3 linked regions of the Homo sapiens genome follow. The protein of the gene in region 3 binds, or shares a complex with, the protein of the main gene of each other region. Each region holds a gene or a part of one and is shown on either strand. Other genes may lie near its edges.

Region 1 (7,000 bases), on a different chromosome or scaffold from region 3:
CTAGAAAACATTTAAGGCAGTTCACTGTAATGAGAAAATATAAAAATTAAACGGATTAGAAAACAAGACAAAAAGAACATTGAGATTAGGAAAAATAAAGGGAAGTCAGAAGTGGGGTGATCCTCAAAATGCAGGAGGATAAAGTCTAGTACATTAATTAACCAAGCTGTAAGTGACCTGTTTCTCCAGTAGGCCATTCTGAGAGGCAGGACCTCGTCTGCTCTGTGATCTAGTGTTCATGAGAGAAGGCAATCTTAGATGCCCAGGAAAAGCACTTTTTTTTTCTGATTTGAACTAGAGGAAAAGTTTATCATTGAGGTCTTTATAAATGAAAGCCAGTGTCATATCCTTAACCTCTTTTCAGCACTGAAGATCATAGAGCTGTTTTGTAGCACATCCCTTGCTAGGTAAAAGAAGGCTAAATCACAATTTAGAAAGACATTCTAAAGCCAGTAGAGGCTGGGTGTGGTAGCTCACACCTGTAATCAATCTTAGCACTTTGGGATGCTAAGGCAGGAGGATCACGTGAGCCCAGGAGTTTGCGACCATCCTAAGCAACACAGCAAGACATGATCTATACTACAGAATTTTTCAAATTAGCCAGGCGTGTGTGGTGGTGTGCACCTGTAGTCTCAGCTACTCATCTCTACTAAAAATTTTCTTAAATTAGCCAGGTGGAGTGGAACACACCTGTAGGTAGTCCCAGCTACTCAGGAGGCTGAGGCAGGAGGATCACTTGAGCCCAGGAGTTTGAGGTTGCAACGAGCCATGATTGCACCACTGCACTCCAGCCTGTCAACAGTGCTAGACCCTGTCTAAAAATAAATAAATAAAATCAATGGACAATGTGGTTTAGGTGGGTAGTGGGTAGCTCTGCTGATCTGGCTTGATTCAAATCAGGGTTTTTTGATTGAATATCTAGACCATAGAGGAAAGACAAACTACAACTTCTTCAGACAATCCTCTATAAACATGGTTTTTGTCAGCTGAGCTTTTGAAAAAATCAAGCTGAAATGAGTGGTATGTGTGATCCGTCAACAAGTATTTATTGCATACCTTCTAGGCACAATGCGAGGTCCTGGCTACTTTGCAGTGAACTAGACAGAGGAGGGCCCTGGCCCCTGCTTTGGGGAAAGAAGCCATAGTGTGCAATCAAATAAGTAAATAAGATAATTTCTGAAAAGGAATGTAATTAAGTTCTGAGAATGAACTTGATGGAATGAGGACAGAGAGTAATGGGGGAGGGCAGTGATACCTGACAGGTTCAACCACATGAAGAGCCCAGGAAAGTATTCCAGATAGAGACAACAACTAGTGCAAAGGCCCGAGGTGAAAACAAGCTCTGCACCCTTTAGAGGAAATAAGGAAAGCCACTGGGCTGGATCTAGGGACAGGACTGCATCCAGGTGGGCCAAGAGGAGTACGATGCAAAAGGAGGTAAAAGGGAGCTCAGGAGGAGCCTTGCAGGCTTTGGAAAGGAGACTGAATTGTCCTTTGTGGGCATTTAGAAATGATAGGAGGATTGTAAGCAGGAGAGTTAGTGATCCAATTCATCTTTTAGATCATTCTGAGTTGCATAAAAAATGGATTCTAGGAAGGCAAGAATGGAAACAGGGAGTCCAATGCAAAATATTCCAGATGAGAGAAATGTGGGCTTGGATTAGAGCGATGTTAGTGTGGAAGATAGAAGTGGATGCTCTTGATATCTCATTCATCCTCCTGGAAAGCTCTTGGAGGAGTACCAGTACCTGTCCATGGAGCTTACATAAGAGCCAATGTCTTTTACAAATTTGATGTGCCTGTATCACTGTCCCTTCATGTAATCCATTCCTCTGGGTCTGCGTATCCAGTTGGACTGGGAGCTCTTGAAGAAGCAGCCCTTTATTTCCTGCACTCAGTTTGAGGAACTGCCCTGCTTTAGAGTAGCTATAGCTACTAGACTGGATATTTTCACCACTACTGTCATGTTATAAGTGAAAAAGTAGAGGTCTTTGGAAGTTAGTGACTTGCAGTCACACAGGTAGTTTGTGACAAAGCCATTTTCTCTCCTTCCCTTGTTGCCAACTCTAGCAGTCTGGCTAGCTGAAAAACAGTGTGGATGTTGTCACTGTTAATTTAAACTATGTTAACTGTATTTTGTATGTGTTAATTTAAAGGATGCTAAATATTGTTAGTACCCTGATAGAAATCATTTCAGAAGCACTTTTTGCACTACAGAGAACATTAGGTGATATATTGATATGCCAGAGCAACAGATGAGAGATGGAGAAAGGGGTTGGGGTGGAATGTGGCTCTACATTCTATTTAATAAAGCTTGCTGGTTTTGACGGTAGCTTTTTTTTTTAACTTAGAAAAATGTAATGCATGAATATGTACTTGTTGCAATGTGAAATAATGGTTTTTAATATGCCTACGAATAATATGACAGAATAATGGAGCTGCATTATGACTTTCTAATAATGTAATTGTATATATTTTTCTGTGAATGCAGAGGTGAGTAGTAACTCATCTGTGAAAGGAAGATAATAGTACACACTTTGTAGAGTTGTTTCAAGGATGAAACATGATAATATATGTAAAGCACTTTGAAGTTGAGTGACCATTTAATTTATTGTGTAAACCAGGACACTTTTCAGAGTGAAAAGAAACAAATGGGTTGTGTGGTCACCAACTAGGGTGGTATAAATGCTGTGCAAGTGTTTGCTGCTGCTGTTATTCCTATTTCAATTGCTGATCCAATGTTAATTAGACATTTGTGGGCACAGGGTTCTTTTGTTTTTGGGTTTTTTTTTCATTAGTGCCATTGCATTTGCCCACTTTCTTCCATCTTCTGTGGCCCCAACACAGGGATAACTGCTGCAGTTCAACTATGAAATGATGTTTCTTTAGCCAAGATAATTGGTTTTTCAAAGCAAGATGGACATTTCACCTTGACTTTATTAGCACTATACTACTCTAAACATTTAAATAGAGAGAAAAGACAAAGGACCTCAACATGATGTTTTGCATTTATTTTCCTTTTAAAATTTTAAATTTAATTTTGGTGCACGTAATTTACCTTGGCATCAGCAATTTATGTAGACCAGTCAGAAGTATCTTAGGAGAGGTTAATATCTACATGGAGGAATCAAACCATCTTATTGTTCCTTCCACCCACCTTTTATGTGTCTCCTTAATATTGTTGACCTTAAAAATTGTTTTAATGGCTTTGAGCTTTTTGAAAGGAGGGACCAGGTGTTATTTTACCATAAGGAATGTAACACAATGGGCTAATATGTGTGATTCATCTTAATAACATGAGCTGTGGTGGTCTAACGATAAATCTTACAGGAATCTGCATGAACATTTTTTTTACATGGCCTTAGTCTCTCTTCTTGTTCATTTAAAGTAGGTCAAATCAAGCCAGTTTTCTTTGTTGTTGTTAACATATCATAGCTTTATTCAGTAACGGAGTAGAATTTTTAATACAGAGAAAATGAAGTACCTGAGAATGATAAATAAGTTTACCACCCAGTTAACCACTGTTACTACTTCATAAAAAAAGTACTACATGTCAGTAAATTCAAGAAGAAATGCACAATATGAAAAATGAAAACCTTCCCCTCTTTACCTTCCGTAATAATTCCTCTCCCAGAATGATTTTTAATGCCTCTAAAAGGTAAAAGTATCTTCTCTGGAGCCTGACTCCTGAGTTTGAGTTCCATTTCTATTCCTTACTTCCTGTGACATTTAATTTTTGGCAAGATGCTTTTTCATTGGTAAAATAGGGATAAGAATATCTATAATGAGGCCGGGCAAGGTGGCTCACGCCTGTAATCCCAGCACTTGGGGAGGCCGAGGCGGGTAGGTCACGAGGTCAGGCGTTCAAGACCATCCTGGCTAACACGGTGAAACCCCGTCTCTACTAAAAATACAAAAGAATTAGCTGGGCGTGGTAGCGGGCGCCTGTAGTCCCAGCTACTTGGGAGGCTGAGGCAGTAGAGTGGCATGAACCTGGGAGGCGGAGCTTGCAGTGAGCCGAGATAGCGCCACGCACTCCAGCCTGGGCAACAGTGCAAGACTCTGTCTAAAAAAAAAAAAAATCTATAATGCTGTTGTGTAGATTAAGTGTGTTTATATGTGAAAAGCATCTAAAGCAGTCCTTAGCATATTTAAGTGTTACGTATCTGCTGGCTAGTATACCAGTGGGTATATATGCTTGAAAATTTTATACAGTCATTTACACACTGGTCTGTATTCAACTTCTGTGTACCCATAAAATTTTTTTTAAGTGATATAGTAGGTGCGTATATTTATGGGGTACATGAGATATTTTGATACATGCATACAATGCAAAATAATCACAGCAGGGTAGATAGGATATCCATTGTCTTCAAGCATTTATCATTTGTTATAAACATTCTAGTTATGCTCTTTTAGTTGGTATAAAATGTGCAATAAATTATTGTTGACTATAATCATCCTATTGTGCTATCAAATACTAGATCCTATTCACTCTATGTTTTTGTACTAATTAAGCATCCCCGCCCCTCCCCTGCCACCACACACCCCACAGCTCTTCCCAGCCTCTCGTAACCATCTCTATTTTCTACCTCCATGAGTTCAGTTGTTTCAATTTTTAGCTTATCATGGAGCTCTTTTGAATATAAATCTACCTTATTCTTTTATATCAGTGTGTATAGTCTATTAATTTTTTAGACAGATCCTCTATTGGCATTTAGTTTGTTTTCAGTTTTTTACTCTTCCAAACAGTGTTACAATGGAGATATTTGCATAGATATATTCGCGTACTTGTGGGAATAATTTCTAAAAGATAAGTCAAAAGGTATATGTGTCTTTAATTTTGGTATATCTTGCTGTAATGCCTTAGTAGCTAGCTGTTTTCCCCACTATAATCCTGTCTGAAATTGTTATCCCTTCCTGTGGCTTTCAGTTTGGTACCTACCAAATTTTTTGCCAAACTGCATTTAGAAAGGAAATGCTAATCCTCACTGGTAGATCACAGGATTACTAGTTCACAAAGGCAGGTGAGATTGCAGCCTTCCCTCAAAGGGAACCACATTTGACCTGCAATTTAGCCTTAGCAAGGAGTTACATAACAATGATGCTATTGCCTCTGGTTGTCAAGCCTTGACCTGTCTCTGAAGTTGTTTTGTAATCAAGGTTTTAATGGCAAATATAGGGAAAGAACAATTATGAATTTTGAAAACGTTAGTCTGGGTTTATGAGAAACTCCCTTTTATGCTAAAATGAGAGCACAGCTAAAATGGCTGTGTCATCTGACCAGAGGCCTAGAAATCTAGAGTTGCTCTAGTAACTGTAAAGGAGTCATTTCTTCCTGCCTCTATGTTTATGAAACATAGAGTTTTAAGATCTAAGGACTTTTTGAGGCTTATTTGGTGTCTTGAATAATTTTATATTTCTTCTGGCTATATGTTGGCATATATGTATCCCATTTTGCAAGTAAATATTTACATTTCAGCATAAATGTGTCATTACTGATTTTAAACTGATTTTGAAAGATATTTTGTATGTGCAATTATGGTATAACGAAATCCAGTAGGAAGTCATAAGTTCTAGAATTGTGATAATAGTCTACTGTTAAACCAATCCTGTTTTTTTATGTTTTCAGTGGTTAACATTTAGGCATATTGGATATGAGGCATTTTGATGAGCAAATATGTATCTCATGCCCCTGCCTCATAGACAGTATACTCTAGACAATGTGTGGTCATATTACTCACTAATTAATACGTGAAGTTAATTGCTGCCTCCTTTTCTTTCTTTTTTTTTTTTTTGAGACGGAGTCTCGCTCTGTCGCCCAGGCTGGAGTGCAGTGGCGGGATCTCGGCTCACTGCAAGCTCCGCCTCCCGGGTTCACGCCATTCTCCTGCCTCAGCCTCCCAAGTAGCTGGGACTACAGGCGCCCGCCACTACGCCCGGCTAATTTTTTGTATTTTTAGTAGAGACGGGGTTTCAGCGTTTTAGCCGGGATGGTCTCGATCTCCTGACCTCGTGATCCGCCCGCCTCGGCCTCACAAAGTGCTGGGATTACAGGCGTGAGCCACCGCGCCCGGCCCTCCTTTTCTTGACTCAGATTCACACTCCACAGTCTTTCCAGGAGCTAGATGGATGGTATTATCCAGCCATTGTCCTACAAGCCTAAAGCCAGGTGGAAAACCACCATCCTCACAGCAGGTGTCAAGTATTTTGGTTTAGAAACTCTTTCCAGATGATGTTCATCCTCATAGTAAAGAAAGTAATTATGACAAGGAGTGATGTTGATAACATAAAAAAAATAACAAAAAATCTGCTAAGCCATCTTTACTGTTTTTACAGGATAGACCAAAGCCCAGCAGAATTACTAATATAAGCATTCAAACTGCTTACAGAGGGTTTCAAGCATGATAATTTGTGAAGTCAACATGTATAGTAAACAAAACATATTTTAAGTGTGTTCATTATGGAGCTAATTGATAAGATGTCATTAAAAATAATAATGCTCATGGCATTTGTGTTAGGAACTATCAGCAGCAGTCCATCTTTAAATTTAAAAAGAACAGAGGCTATTCTCAAACTGAGAGCTTACCTTTTTGTTTTATTCTGTTTCTGTTGGAGCTGTGCTCTGTACTTTATACATGTTATTTCAATAATTCTTGTCCACAGAGTTTTCTAGGCAGCAACTCTCTGTGCACAATTTCAGCTAGAAACGCCATGACCTTCCCAGTAAATTTGAGACAGAAGCAAATTTGTAAGGAATCCTAACTGGGCAAAACTTGATATGCATAAATGCCTAATATGTATCTACATAGATATATCTATAGATAAATCTTCAACATTTACTCTGACTTTTATAGGATGATACAAGTTGTGGATTAAATTTTTTTTTTTTTTTTTTGAGACGGAGTCTCGCTTTGTCACCCAGCCTGGAGTGCAGTGGCGCGACCTTGGCTCACTGCAAGCTCCACCTCCCGGGTTCACGCCATTCTCCTGCCTCAGC
Region 2 (7,414 bases), on a different chromosome or scaffold from region 3:
CCAGAACTTTCATCTACACATTTCCCCATTTGGTCTTCACAATACTCCTCTAACATACACTTTATTATCTCCATTTATAAAATCTATAAGATTTTATAGATGAAGGAAATAGGAGATAAGACGACAAGCCAAAGTGTCAAAGCTATGAAGTCACAGAGCTATGAAGTGGCGCAATCTCGGCTCACTGCAAGCTCCACCTCCTGGGTTCACGCCATTCTCTCGCCTCAGCCTCCCGAGTAGCTGGGACTACAGGCGCCTGCCACCACACCAGGCTAATTTTTTTGTATTTTTAGTAGAGACGGGGTTTCACCGTGTTAGCCAGGATGGTCTCGATCTCCTGACCTCGTGATCCGCCCGCCTCGGCCTCCCAAAGTGCTGGGATTACAGGCGTGAGCCACCGTGCCCGGCCAAGCCAAGATTTTAAACCCAGATTTGACCCCAAAGCCCCCTTTTCTCTTACACCAGCATTTCTCAACTCCAGCCATTCGCATGCCAACATCACAATTTTTGTCCTATCCATTAAACACTATACTTTTCTTTATTCAAGATTTTTCTTAAAATTGATTCAAAAAAGTTTACTTAAATAAATTTAGCAGCCAGCTGTGGAGGCTCAAGCCTGTAATTCCAGCACTTTGGGAGGCCAAGGTAGGCAGATCACTTGAGTCCAGGAGTTCAAGATCAGCCTGGGCAATATGGCAAAACCCGTCTCTACAAAAAATTAGCCAGGCATGGTGGCATGTGCCTGTAGTCCCAGCTACTCAGGAGGTTGAGGTGAGAGGATGGCTTGAGCCCAGGTGGAGGCTGCAGGGAGCCAATATTGTGCCACTGTACTCCATCCTGGGTAACAGGGCAAGACCCTGTCTCAAAAATAAAAATAAAATAAAATAAATAAAAATAAAATAAATTTAGCTTCAACTGAATAATAAATTCTATGTGCTAGTTCTTCTAGTAGACATTAAGATATTTGCAAAACTGGTTTTTAATGTTCACCCACGCATCACCTGAATCACTCATGGATCAGCAGCTGTATACTTGGGGAAAAACCACACCATTCCGCCTCCAGAGATAAGTCTTGTCAACAAAGTCCAGTGGCCCACACTGAACACATCAATTAAAAATCTCACCAACTTTTTCCATTCTAAAACGCATATTTTCTCACATTTTAGTATCTACACTGTATCTTAAAATGTATCAGAAAGCATTTCAAAATTTTGGGTGTATCACAGTTATTTACCAACTTTCTTTCCTAATGGAACATCTTACGATCAATGAAAACTCAGAGTCCCATACAATATCGGCCTCAATACTTACAACAGAGCCTATAAATGTACTGCACAACTTTCTCCCAGATCACCAAGACCATCCAAGTTTCAACCATTCTAACTCATCAGAATTTTCCAAATTCTCCATGCCTTTGCACATGCCGTTCCCTCCTGGAAATGTCCCATTCCCCACCCACAGCACCCTGACCACTCAACTCCTATGGCTACCCTAAAAGTTTGCTCAAATTTGGTGAGGCCTTCCCTGGCTCCCCTAGGCAGACTTTTGTTTTCATTTCTATTCTGGGTATCCACCTTGCAGACCTCTCCATTATAAAATGAACCATATCTTGCTATGTTATTTGTATATATATGTCTTCTCCCCGCAGGGGAGGTCCTTGGAGCTGGAAACTCTTATTCAGCTCAGGATGTCTCATACACAGCTGAGTGCCAAGCACAGAAAAGATATTCGGAAAATGGTTGTTGAATGAATCCAAACAGCTTATCTTCCTATTGCCCTCTCTCTGAATAGTCACCTTTAGTGTTCACAGTGGCAATGCATTTTGTAGTCCTCACATCCCAGATGCGAATGGTTTTATCTCCGGACGCCGTAACAAATAGGTCAGGATTACTTGGATGCCAACAAAGCTGGTCCACACTATCCCCATGTCCCCGATAATTGTTTTCTTTGACCTGAAAGAACAGAATCCAGATGTGACTTCACATAGATGTAACTGCCTCCGCATGTAACTTTATAAGCTTATTCAAACCAAAGTATGCTGGGACCAGTAAAGATCTGGGTAATTCAGAATCCAGTTCCTCCAAGCCCTTTCTCCCTTCTCTTCTCCGCAGGCCTTCTGAACTGTTTTTCTCAGCTTCCACACCTATGCCCTTACTTTTGTGCCCTCCCTGGCCTTCTCCTCCTTCCTGGTTTTCCACCCTTACTCTACCACCAACGTACCACCAACGTACCACCACCAACGTACCACCACCACCACCACCACCACCACCACAGCCCCTAGCCACTTCTTATCAGCACAGGATTCGACTCCAAACCAGTAAGGCTCCCATCGCAGCCCTGTCCCATCCACCCTCTCCTCACCTTCACCCGCCATCGCCAACCTCCTTACTTCCACACTCTTCACACGCCCCCAGTCTTCCTCTCCTCACCCCTCACGACCCCGTCACCCCCACACTCCACCTTCTCCCTACTCCCTCCTCATCTCCACACTCCCCCTTTCCCCTTCCCTCAAACCCACTCTCCTTTCACCCCCGCGGCTCCGTTCGCCCCCATTCGCTCTCCCACTACCGCACCTCACTTCACCACGGCCCCTCTCCCTAGCCTGAGCCGAGCCCCGGCAGCTCACCAACCGGTCCTTCTCCAGCAAGAAGACGCTGGCCGTCTTGTCGAAGGACCCCGAGGCTAGGCGACGCCCGTCGCAACTCCAGGCCACCGAGTGCACCTTGGCGCTGTGCGCCAGGAACTCGCGCGTCTTGCTGTGGCCCCGGAACAGCTCCTGCATCCCAAGCACGTAGCGCGACGGGCCGCTGCTCACTGAGCACCACGGGGCCATCGAGCCGGGGCCGCTCTGGCCCAACGCCGAGGGCCCCATGGCTGCAGCGGGGACCGCCATGCCGAGCTCCCCAGCTTCCAACTCACAACACTGCAGCAGCCTCCACGGCGCAGTCAGTCCTGGCGCCGCTGCCGCACGCATGCGCCCGGAAGAGCGACGGCCCCTCTGCGCAGGCGCGCTGTACCCCGCCCCGGAAGGGACTACAAATCCCGGTATGCAGCGCGTGCCCGCGTCTGCTTACTTAGTAATATTTGGTTCTTTTAACTCCAAATATGCTTCACACTTAACGATTCCGAGTTTTTTTAGTGTTCTTATTTCTCCCTTACCTATTCTTTGGTAGATATATGTGTATTCCTGTTTAATCGAATAAAAGAACCAACACTAACCTTCTAAACAGTTAACTCATCACCTTTCTTCTGGGGTTGTTCCGTAATCCCTAGTCCCCTCCCTTAAGAGCAGAAAGCTCTGGTCTTTTTGCTGGAGAAGGACCAGCTGGTGAGCTTGTCCCATGAAAAGGGCTAGCGGGTGTGGAGTGAGGGAAGAGGTGTTAAGAAGGGGTCTGGAGGTTTTGTTTTTTTTTTTTAAATAAAAATGGATTTTTTGTTTTTAAAAGGTAATGGCAGAGGCGTGTGAACCAGAGCAACTCTATCTTAAATAGGAACTGGGTAAAATGAGGCTTAAACCTACTGGGCTGCATTCCCAGACTGTTAAGGCATTCTAATCACAGGATGAAATAGGAGGTCAGCACAAAATACAGGTCATAAAGACCTTGATGATAAAACAGGTTGCAGTAAAGGAACCGGCCAAAACCCACCAAAACCAAAATGGCGATGAGAGTGACCTCTGGTCATCCTCACCTCTACACTCCCACCAGTGCCAGGACAGTTTGTAAATGCCATGGCAATGTCAGGAAGTTACCCTATACGGTCTAAAAAAGGGAGGCATGAATAATCCACCACTTGTTTAGCATATCATCAGGAAAAACCATAAAAATGCGCAACCAGCGGCCCTCGGGGCTGCTCTGTCTATGGAGTGGCCATTCTTTTATTCCCTTTACTTTCTTAATAAACTTGCTTTCACTTTGCACTGCGGACTTGCCCTGAATTCTTTCCTGAGTGAGATCCAAGAACCCACTCCTGGGGTCTGGATTGGGACCCTTTTCCTGTAACAGTATTACATGCACATGATTGTAAATATAAAAATAAAAGATATAGAGTGAAAAGTAAATGTCCACCTGCGTATCCACCCCACCTCTCATATCTCCCTTAAACCAGTGGCTTCTTGCTGGAGAAAAAAGGGGTGGTGAGCTGCCAGCGCCAGTCAAGGCCCTGGAGAAGAGCTGAGGGGGGAAGGTTTTGGTGGTGAGTAGTAGTGGTAAATGTGTTTAAAAACCCAATTTTTAAAAGGCAACACGTGCACTTGGTAACAAATGTAAAATGTATAAAAGGGAATAGATTGAAAAGCTTCCCTCCATCCTGTGTCCCCAAACTTCTCTTCTGAAAAAGTTAAATTTCTTGTGTGGCCTTCCAGAGACAGTGTAAGTAAGCACCTGGGCAAGGTAGATAGGTGTGTGCATAACCTCTCCCAACACACTGCCAAAAAGGTAGCATTCCTTACACAACTTGCTTCCTATGGTAAATATGTATAGGAAATCATTTCTTGTCAGAAAATGCAGACGTCTCATTCTTCTCAATGGTGGCAGTCTTTATATGAATATATAATATTCAACTGATCCCTTCATGAATTTGCTTTTAGAACAATATTAGAACAATATTGCAGTGAATATCCCTATACAACCTTCATTGTGCACATCTGCACTTTTTTATTTGGATATATATTGCCAAAACACCTATGAAGAGGTTTAATAATTTATACTTCCACCAGCAACATAAGAAAGTGTCAGAAGGTCCTAGGTACTAAATGAGTACACATATAAAGCATATGGCTCTCAGAAGGACCGTAGGAAATAAGGTCCCTATCTTTCCCCAATCTTTTCCCTACCCCATTGCAACCAGAAATTCTTGGAAACTACAAAGCTTTTCAGACTCCAAGAATACCACTGAAGTCTCTAAAATCTTGGAGTAGGAAACTATTTGGTGTCTAGTTTTCTTCCTTACCCCTCTTTTTCAGGAATCTTCATATATATATATATATTTAGATATTTTTCCTACATTTTCCCTGTATTTTGTATTTTTTTTTTTTTTTTTTTTTTTTTTTTGCTGCATACACTGAGGATTTACAAGTCCCTGCCAAGATACAAAAACTGAAGTAGAAAGAGGTAAAATGTCCTGGTCCAGGTCACATGACTATCATGTGACAGAGCAAAGGTTAGAACTCAGATGTTACTGACTCTAAAATCTACACTCTGATTCTCAGTATCTGAAATCACGTAAATGTGATTCTTTGTATTTCTGCATTCATTTTGTATTTTTGTATGTAATGTATATTTTTTATTTTTTAATTTTTTTTTGAGATGAAGTTTTGCTCCTATTGCCCAGGCTGGAGTGCAGTGCGATCTTGGCTCACTGCAACTTCCGCCTCCCAGGTTCAACCAAGTCTTCTGCCTCAGTCTCCCGAGTAGCTGGGATTACAAGCACCGCCACCATGCCTGGCTAATTTTTTGTATTTTCGGTTGAGATGGGGTTTCGCTATGCTGGCCAGGCTGGTCTCGAACTCCTGATGTCAGGTGATCCACCCGTCTCTGCCTCCCAAAGTGCTGGGATTACAGGCATGAGCCACCGCGCCCGGCCTGTAATGTATGTTTTTTACTTAATTTCCCCTTGTGTTCCTTTTCTATATTCTGTATACATGGATGTTAGAAACTCAGTTGTGATAAGTATATCCGACTGCTCTTGCCTGAGACAGAAACTGGTATAACATTTCAAGTTGGACTAGCACACATCTGGGGGCAATGTTGAGACTGAAGTCAGAGTCTCTCAAAGGGGAGATAAAATTGAGGGGAACAGAGTCATGGGCCATTTTTTAAAACTTTTTATTTGGAAAAATTCAAATTTACAGAAAAGTTGCAAGAATACTAAAAAGCACTGCTATTCCTGTGACACAGATTCACCAAATTGTAGCATTTTGTTCCACTTTTTTTCTTTTTTTAGTTTTATTTTTATTTATTTATTTTTTTGAGACACAGTCTTACTCTGTCACCCAGGCTGGAGTGCAGTGGCGCGATCTTGGCTCACTGCAACCTCCGCTTCCCAGGTTCAAGCGATTCTCATGTCTCAGCCACCTGAGTAGCTGGGATTACAGGCATGCACCCCCACACCCGCTAATTTTTTGTATGTTTTGTAGAAATGGAGTTTCTCCATGTTGGCCAGGCTGGTCTCAAACTCCTGGCCTCACCCGCCTTGGCCTCCCAAAGTGCTGAGATTACAGGCCTGAGTCACTGTGCCCAGCCTCCATTTGCTTTCTCTACATATATCTACGTTACTACTCTTTTGTCTAAACATTTGGCAATTGTGCATTAGTCCGTTCTCACATTGCTATAGGGAACTACCTGAGACTGGGTAATTTATAAAGAAAAGAGGTTTAATTGGGCCAGGCGCGGTGGCTCACACCTGTAATTCCAGCACTTTGGGAGGTCAAGGCGGGTGGATCACGAGGTCAGGAGTTCAAGACCAGCCTGGCCAAGATGATGAAACCTCGTCTCTACTTAAAATATAATAAAATTAGCCAGGCGTGGTGGCGGGCGCCTGTAGTCCCAGCTACTTGGAAGGCTGAGGCAGGAGAATGGCGTGAACCCGGGAGGCGGAGCTTGCAGTGAGCCTAGATTGCACCACTGCACTCCAGCCTGGGCTACAGAGCAAAAAGCTGTCTCAAAAAAAAAAAAAAAAAAAAAAGAGGTTTAATTGGCTCGTGGTTCCATAGGCTGTACAGGAAGCATGGCTGGGCACGTCTCAGGAAACAGAGAGACAGGGAGGTGCCACATACTTTTAAACAGCCAGATGTCATAAGAACTCAGTCACTGTAACGAGAACAGCAAGGGGGAAATTCGCTCCGATGATCCAGTCACCTCTCACCAGGCCCCTCCTCCAACACTGGGGTTTACAATTGGAAATTTTCTCAGGGACACAAATCCAAGACATATCACATTGTAAGTTGCATACATCTTACCCTTTACCCCTAAATATTTCAGTATTTCCTAAGAAATAGGATGTTCTGTTTCCTACCCCCAGTATAGTTATCGATGTTGGTAAATTGAACAGAAACATGGAATTTTATTTAATCTACTGTCTGTATTTCATTTGTGTCAATTTAGCCAGAAATGTTCTTTATAGCCCTTCTTTTCTTTCAGTACATGTTCCAGTCTAGAACCTCATACTATATTTAGTTATTATATGTCCTTAGTCTCCTTGAATCTATAAAGGTTCCCCAGCATTTCTGTGCCTATTATGACATCAACATTTTTGAAGAATGCAGTTGATGGACCGTTTTTACAGTTCCTTCTCTCACCTAGAAATTCTCTCTTAGGAGCTGATCAAAATCAAACTAAGAAATTTTTTACACATGTGAGTCTTGGGGACTTCAGGGTCATTCAAGGCAGAATCAGGCCATAAATAGTAATGCCAG
Region 3 (7,712 bases):
AACAGCAACTTCAACTCCTTCCTAAGAAAACATTACTTAACTTGGCCCTGGGGTCCAATGCACAAAGCCAATTTTAAGCTAAATACCAACAGAAGGCTACAGACCTCTGTTCTTAGTTGCATCTCATGTGGTACACAAAACAAATTGGGCGGTTGTTTCAAAACCCCTTATCAGTAGACTTTTATGTTAAGCTGTCTGAAGTATTTATTTGGTGGGATGTATTTTAAAAGACTCCTAACACTCTTCCTTTTCACATTTTTTTACGTTGATACTGGGGTCGTGCAGCACGGTAGCATGGTACCCTGGCTACAGTAGGCTTGCTGCCCAGTCCAAGGCCAGCAGTGTTGTGTCTGGCCTGTAAGAGGCAGGTAGCAAGCCATGAATATGTCCAAAGGCCCTTGAATGTCATTCTTGGGCCTTGTAAGAGGCACTCGCTTTGCTCCATTTCACTTTCTTTCCATTCTGCTTTTAGTTTGGTTTTGTTTTGGATTCTTCTACAGTTAAGTGTTCTTCTCTTCCATTCCATTATACTTCCTTGACAGAAATAATGAGTCTCTTCACAGGCTCATAAATGATCAAACTGATGTAACTTTGAAAAGTAACTACTTGGAGTCAGAAAAAGTGATGATTGGAGACTAAGAAAAGTAAAGATATTCAAAGGCAGTTTCTATCTCTGACAACTTTGTTCATTAAGAGTGCCTTTGTTTAGGCGCGGTGGCTCATGCCTGTAATCCCAGCACTTTGGCAGGCTGAGGCGGGCGGATCACGAGGTCAGGAGTTTGAGATCAGCCTGCCCAACATGGTGAAACCCTGTCTCTACTAAAAATAGAAAAATTAGCTGGGCGTGGTGGCGTGTGCCTATAATCCCAGCTACTCAGGAGGCTGAGGTAGGAGAATCACTTGAACCCGTGAGGCGAAGGTTGCAGTGAGCCAAGATCCTGCCACTGCACTCCAGCCAGGGCAACAGAGGACAGAGTGAGGCTCCGTTTCAAAAAAAAGAATGCCTTTGATCAGTGATTTCATTAAGTTGACTTTCGACCACTGAAATTTACTTAATGTCTATTTTTGCCTCTTCTGAGGCATATGTGCTTCTCTCCTTATCTCTTTGGCTATGATAAGCTAATTATTTATGTTTGCATAATATTTATGTTTGCATGTTAGTGACATATATTTTAAAATGTGATACACTCCTGTAATTTATGAGAGTATGTTCATTGCTGTGAGCTTTGAAGGTGCTCTAATCCTTCCTCATATTTGGCCTTAGAATGCACCTCGGATCCCCCAAGGTTTAGGCTTTCTTCATTTGTCTTTGAAACTATATCTTCTGTCTCTTGTCATATCTGCTTATTGCGTGTTTTTCATACCTTCCACCTCTCTAAAAGCCGTTACCTGAGCCCTCGTTATCACTTTTGGTTGAATGTGCTGCACTTAGCTGCATTTCTAAGTTTCTGATTCTTGCAAGTTTGTGGAAACAGAGGAGTCTTTAACCCACATCAGCCTTGATCTAAGTGTACCACTTTACTTAAAAGTTCGTGGGATCTGGAGCTCCTGGTCTAGCAAGCCATGAAAATGCCAATAAATGTTTGTAATAAAGCTTTTATTTAAACATCCATTTTGTTCGACCTTGAAGCTTTACTAATATGCTGAAGAACAAACAGCCGACGCCAGTGAATATTCGGGCTTCGATGCAGCAACAACAGCAGCTAGCCAGTGCCAGAAACAGAAGACTGGCCCAGCAGATGGAGAATAGACCCTCTGTCCAGGCAGCATTAAAACTTAAGCAGGTGAGAGAATGGGTCTTAATGCTCCAGAAGCAGCTGGTGATCTCTGTGAGGGAGTCCACTGAGGCTGTCAGGACGTGATGGATGATTGCAAAGTGGCTCAGGGCAAAAAGCTGAAACTTCTCTGGAAGAAAGAGAAGTTCAGAGAATTCCAATTTTGGCAGGTACCAATAAGTAACTTTTTACTGTCTTTCTCTTTTAGGGAGTTTGCCATCTATGTGGCCTGTTTCTGTTACCAATGAGTATTAATCTTTTGTTTTCTGATCCTTAACCCTTAACATAGATTAATGGCTTATTCCACAAAGAAACTTTATTTCAGCTTTAGATAATCTCACAGCATCCTTTACTCTCTGTTAAATGATTTACCCAACAGGGAAATAATTTTATTCTTTTTCCCATAGTGCAGGGAGTTTGCATGGCCTTAGTCAAAGGTTTTCTTTTTTTTTTTTTTTTTAGACGGAGTCTTGCTCTGTCGCCCAGGCTGGAGTGCAGTGGCACGATCTCGGCTCACTGCAAGCTCCGCCTCCCGGGTCCATACCATTCTCCTGCCTCAGCCTCCCGAACAGCTGGGACTAAAGGTGCCCGCCACCACACCCAGCTAATTTTTTTGTATATTTAATAGAGACAGGGTTTCACCATACTAGCCAGGATGGTCTCGATCTCCTGACCTCGTGATCCACCCGCCTCGGCCTCCCAAAGTGCTGGGATTACAGGCTTGAGCCACCGCGCCCAGCAGTCAAAGGTTTTCAATGCTAAAATATACAGAGTAGAGTGACCCTCATTTCCACAGCACCTAAAGTTTTACCAGTAAAGTGGAGCAAGAATACTGAGTAATTTGAGTTAGGGGTTCTCTTTTTCAAATTTACAGTGAGAGATAATCCTATTCAGACCTGAAATAAAACCTGCTCTTTATTATTCATAGAATTTATATGCAAGTCCGGACAGTGGCTGTGGAAGGATATGTCCAAGCTGTGGCTGGGCGTCTGGAGGGCAGTGCCATGCAACTGTAAGGGCTTTGGTAGCATTGCATGGCTATGCATAAATTCAGCAGTTAAATATAACACCCTTACACCCCCACCCTGAACCATTGGGCTCACTGACCAAAAATAAACAAGGGTGTCTGCTTCGGCTACCTTAAGCCTTGGAGTGACTGGATTCCTCCCTGACTCAGGAAAGCAGCAAAAGGCACCATTTTCCAAGAGTAAATGGAAGTTGCTGAAGATGAATCTCTGACAGATCATTCCAAAGGACCTTTCAACAAGAAGCTTTAAGTATAGGCTCTGCAGGAAGTAGTCCCTATCCAGAGTAGTACTATTAAATAGAATTTTTTTATGTTTTTGGTTTGGTTTGGTTTGGTTTGTTTTGAGACGGAGTCTTGCTCTGTCACCCAGGCTGTAGTGCAGTGGTGCAATCTCAACTCACTGCAGCCTCCGCCTCCCGGGTTCAAGCGATTCTCCTGTCTCAGCTACAGGCGCCCGCCACCACACCCGGCTAATTTTTGTATTTTTAGTAGAGACGGAGTTTTGTCATGTTGGCCAGACTGGTCTTGAACTCCTGACCTCAAGTGATCTGCCTGCCTCAGTATCCCAAAGTGTTCAGATTACAGGCATGAGCTACCGTGCCCAGCCAGAACTTTCTACAATGATGGAAATGTTCTGTATTTGCTCTCCGGTACAGTAGCCACTAGTCACATGTGGCTATTGAAAACTTTAAATGTGACTAGTGCAATTAAGGAGCTTAATTTTTTTTAATTTAATTTTAGGCCAGGCCTGTAATCCCAGCACTCTGGGAGGCCAAGGCAGGCGGATCACTTGAGGTCAGGAGTTTGAGACTAGCCTGGCCAATGTGGCAAAACCCCATCTCTACTAAAAAAAAAAAAAAGCCGGGCATGGTGGCGCATACCTGTAATCCCAGCTACTCAAGAGGCTAAGGAGAATCTCTTGAACCCAGGAAGTGGAGGTTGCGGTGAGTGGAGTTGGCACCACTGCATTCCAGCTTGGGTGACAGTGAGACTCTGTCTCAAGAAAATAAGTAAAATTTGCTTTTAATTTAGGCTGGGTATGGTGGCTCACACTTGTAATCCCAGCACTTTGGGAGGCCTGGGCAGGTGGATCACCTGAGGTCAGGAGTTCAAGACCAGCCTGGCCAACATGACAAGACCCCGTCTCCACCAAAAATAAGCCAGGCGTGATGACAGCTCCTGTAATCCCAGCTACTCGGGAGGCTGAGGCAGGAGAATTGTTTGAACCTGGGAGACGAAGGTTGCAGTGAGCCAAGATCGTGTCACTGCACTTCAGCCTGGGCAACAGAGCGAGACTGTATCTCAAAATAAAAATAATTGAAATAGCCACATGTAGCTATAGAGGCTGCCTTACACAGCACACCTCTAGAAGGGAAACTAAGTGGTATAGTTGACATCCTTAACTTCCCTGTTAATATTAAAGGCCGGTATTGGTGGCACTTAAGGATTGGAATGGGTAAAGAACTTCCCAGCACTGTACAGTTCTTTTAAAGCACAAAGCTTGGGAGAATTAATATATGCAGGATAACTGAACGCAAGAGACTTGTGGAATGCAGTTCTAACCTGATAATTGTGTGTTAATCGGGAGTAACAGGACAGGCCGTTACGGTTGGTTACACCTACTTATGCTAGATGCATAATGTTTGGAGCCTTCCCCACTGATGAGAAGCAATTTATGATCTTGTGCTAGAAAGTTAATAATGCTTCACAGCATCTTTTTGAGAGGTTGATTAGAAAACACACACATACACGTTGGTAGTCACTTGTGGGTGAAGCCTGAAGGGGCTATACAATTTATTTTCTTTCAGATTGACTGATGGCTTTATGGACAGCCAGGCTTACTAGGAGCTTGGTTGTGTTCAGGGCTATTGCTGTCCCTTTTTCCTTTGAAGGAATTTAATTCTCTGAGATGTAGTCTTAATGGTTTTCTTTTGAGAACAGATTCTTAAAAATACCCTATCTCTGTAGTGTGTCCTTGTTCTTATATATGGCCCTGAGTTTTGTGATCACCTGAATAATTCTAACATACGTTTGGCTGGCTGACTGTGGAGATACATTTGAGTTACATGTTTATTTTTAATTTAAGGTCATCATTGTTTTAAAGGAGCTGTTTGCAAGTGCAGGCATGGAATTAGGGATTTTTAAGAAATGTAAGGAAAGGAGATTTGACTTTCTTGTGTTTATTTACATCTTAAGGTAAAAAGTGGACCGTCTGGAAATAGATTCTCAGAGGAAAAATGGAGCACACGGGCCTTTTTGAGAAATCAATCTTGTTCTTAAGTCACAAGAACTCAAGTGAACTTGTAATTTAAGTTTTGCCCAGAGTGTGATGAACTTCCTATGGTGTTTGAGTAAGCCTTTGAAGACAGTGGTAGTCCATGGGCAGGTATGAATCAAGTCATATAATTGTCAACCTGTAGTTCAAAAGCAGTACAATCCAGGATTGAACTATAGAATGTTCTTACGAAAACTTAAGTTTCAACTGGCAGTGTATGACTTCTGTAGCCAAACTAGTGAGGTAATTTGTGGAGATGCCCATTTCATGGGACCACACTTGAGCTTCTTGGAGTTTCTGCTCTGGATCAAAATTCTGCTGCTTGTATAACATGTTCTGAGGCAAAGGCTTGCTTCTGGTTTGGGATCCTTTTGACACCCACAACAGGTTTATCTCCCTTCACACCAGCATCTCACTTGCTTCTTTTTCTCTGCACTTTGAGTTGCCAAATCCTGTTGGATTGCTTTTTTGATCTCAATCCCCTAACACCTTTTCTTCCAGAAGAGCTTAAAGCAGCGCCTGGGTAAGAGTAACATCCAGGCACGGTTAGGCCGACCCATAGGGGCCCTGGCCAGGGGAGCAATCGGAGGACGAGGCCTACCCATAATCCAGAGAGGCTTGCCCAGAGGAGGACTACGTGGGGGACGTGCCACCAGAACCCTACTTAGGGGCGGGATGTCACTCCGAGGTCAGTGCTGTGTACCCTGATAATTGTCGGGCCCTACTCCCTTCCCTTTTCTCTTGGGCTGCTTATGGACACGTTTGTTTAACATCTTTAAGCCTGAATTTGTATTAATATAATAACTTCTGAAATCACATATTTTTAATAGTGCTGCATGTCTTTTATCAATACCATTCCTTTTCTGATAATGTGCAATGGTGAGAGGCTATGACCTGCGTAACAACAGGTAATTCATGTCATCTCCATTCCATTTTAAAACACCCTGCTGTTGCTTGAATCAAAGCACATTCAAGTTCTAGAAACAAGTCAAACATAAGAAATTTATAGGTCTTTTGGCCTATATCTCTTTGTTCCTGGTGCTAGTAAAACACTGATACAGCTGGAAAAAGAGGACAAGTTGACCCACAGCACTTACCTATATATGTTCATTTGGGGCACTATTACTCTGTTCCCTGTATAGTTCTTGTTCCCTAGAAGAATCTGTTGAGATCAGGAACCATAGCATTTATTTTTAAATTTACCATAATGCTAGGCATCTATCTGATTATTCAGTAGATATTTATTAAATGTATGTACTTACTAATTGAATTAACTCCCAACTTCCAAAAATGGATTTGTGGTCAGACTTGTTGAATTGATTGAATAAAGAGTAGCTTAATCTGTTCACAGTATGCAGCTTGCCCCAGCCAACCTAAAAACTAACTGAATTACCTTCATTTAACCCTCACCGCCTTCCTTTGGTTAGAATCTACTTTGTGTCTCTTGGATTTACCTGCATATACATTGTATGCCTCCTCTCTAAGGTCAAAACCTGCTCCGAGGTGGACGAGCCGTAGCTCCCCGAATGGGCTTAAGAAGAGGTGGTGTTCGAGGTCGTGGAGGTCCTGGGAGAGGGGGCCTAGGGCGTGGAGCTATGGGTCGTGGCGGAATCGGTGGTAGAGGTTAGTCAGCTACCAACTTCAGAGAGTAGCTCCCCCTTACTTTCCTCCCTTAAAAACTCAGAGCCACCTTTCTGCACAGCTTCAAGTCATAGGCAGGCTTCTTTGTTTGTCTTGTTTTGTTATTTGAAACTGGCTTATTTTTCAAATTACCATGCTGGTAGTGCAAAAGTCTCATGATTTTTCCAAGAATCAATCAAGTGCATATTATAGAGCCAGATTATATGCCATCTTCCTCCAAGCTCTTGCAAATTTAAATTGTATAGTTGAAAATACCCCCCAAAATGGTCAGTTTAGGGTTTTGCCTTTCTCTGCCCCTGTCCCACCACCATCACCACCACATACCACCCTGTAGCTCCAAATCCTGGTTTGAGTCACATGAGAATATAGAAGAGAGAGAGAGATACAAAGATGAAGTAGAGTTAAGAGGGTGGTGAGACTTGGAGCTGGGCATTGGCTCTGAAACCAAATAAATTCAATGTCACATTTGGTGCCTGTGGAGAACCAGAGATGACTTTTTTTGCTTAAGGTAGAGAGCAAGATGGAATTATTATCAGTTAACTAACTGGCTCTTATTGATAATCTTGCCTTTGAAATTTATTGATGTTTGTCTTGTGACCTCATGACCCAGATTGGGAAAGAGTTTAATGATGTTGCTGCTGTTAATACTAAATCTCATGGGAGCCTTCTGGTTTAGAGCTTAGTGGAAAACTCCCAACACCTGTCCAGAAAAAAAACACTATTGAAGCCCCTGTGTATATTTGCTTTGGTTCTCTTAAAAGGTGTCTTGGGTCTTCCATAACTTATGACCTTGAAGTTGCCAAGGAATAATAACTGTTAGGAAAGAAAAGTTGATAACCAAGGGCTTGTTTTCTTCTCTCCCATTATATGATACTTACTGAGTGAAGTGCAAGCTAGTTTGGGTTTCAGGATGAAATAACATGTTTCCAAATTATCTTGACTTGGATCCTGAGAGACATCACGAGGGTGGGAGAGACTAAAATAGCTTTTCAAA

Evidence for each region.
Region 1: CHTOP (region 3) and THOC7 share a complex: the UniProt entries of both Homo sapiens proteins name them as parts of the transcription/export (TREX) complex.
Region 2: CHTOP (region 3) and THOC3 share a complex: the UniProt entries of both Homo sapiens proteins name them as parts of the transcription/export (TREX) complex.

Annotation. Positions count from the first base shown.
Region 1 is NC_000003.12:63,853,806-63,860,805, reverse strand, and holds part of THOC7 (THO complex subunit 7), read left to right. Parts: exon of another isoform or gene 1-161; intron 162-7,000. UniProt on the Homo sapiens protein: Component of the THO subcomplex of the TREX complex which is thought to couple mRNA transcription, processing and nuclear export, and which specifically associates with spliced mRNA and not with unspliced pre-mRNA.
Region 2 is NC_000005.10:175,965,316-175,972,729, forward strand, and holds the start of THOC3 (THO complex subunit 3), read right to left. Parts: upstream 3,001-7,414; 5' UTR 2,894-3,000; coding exon 2,627-2,893; intron 1,953-2,626; coding exon 1,796-1,952; intron 1-1,795. UniProt on the Homo sapiens protein: Component of the THO subcomplex of the TREX complex which is thought to couple mRNA transcription, processing and nuclear export, and which specifically associates with spliced mRNA and not with unspliced pre-mRNA.
Region 3 is NC_000001.11:153,636,665-153,644,376, forward strand, and holds part of CHTOP (chromatin target of PRMT1 protein), read left to right. Parts: intron 1-1,630; coding exon 1,631-1,784; intron 1,785-5,578; coding exon of another isoform or gene 5,579-5,581; coding exon 5,582-5,765; intron 5,766-6,562; coding exon 6,563-6,700; intron 6,701-7,712. UniProt on the Homo sapiens protein: Plays an important role in the ligand-dependent activation of estrogen receptor target genes. May play a role in the silencing of fetal globin genes.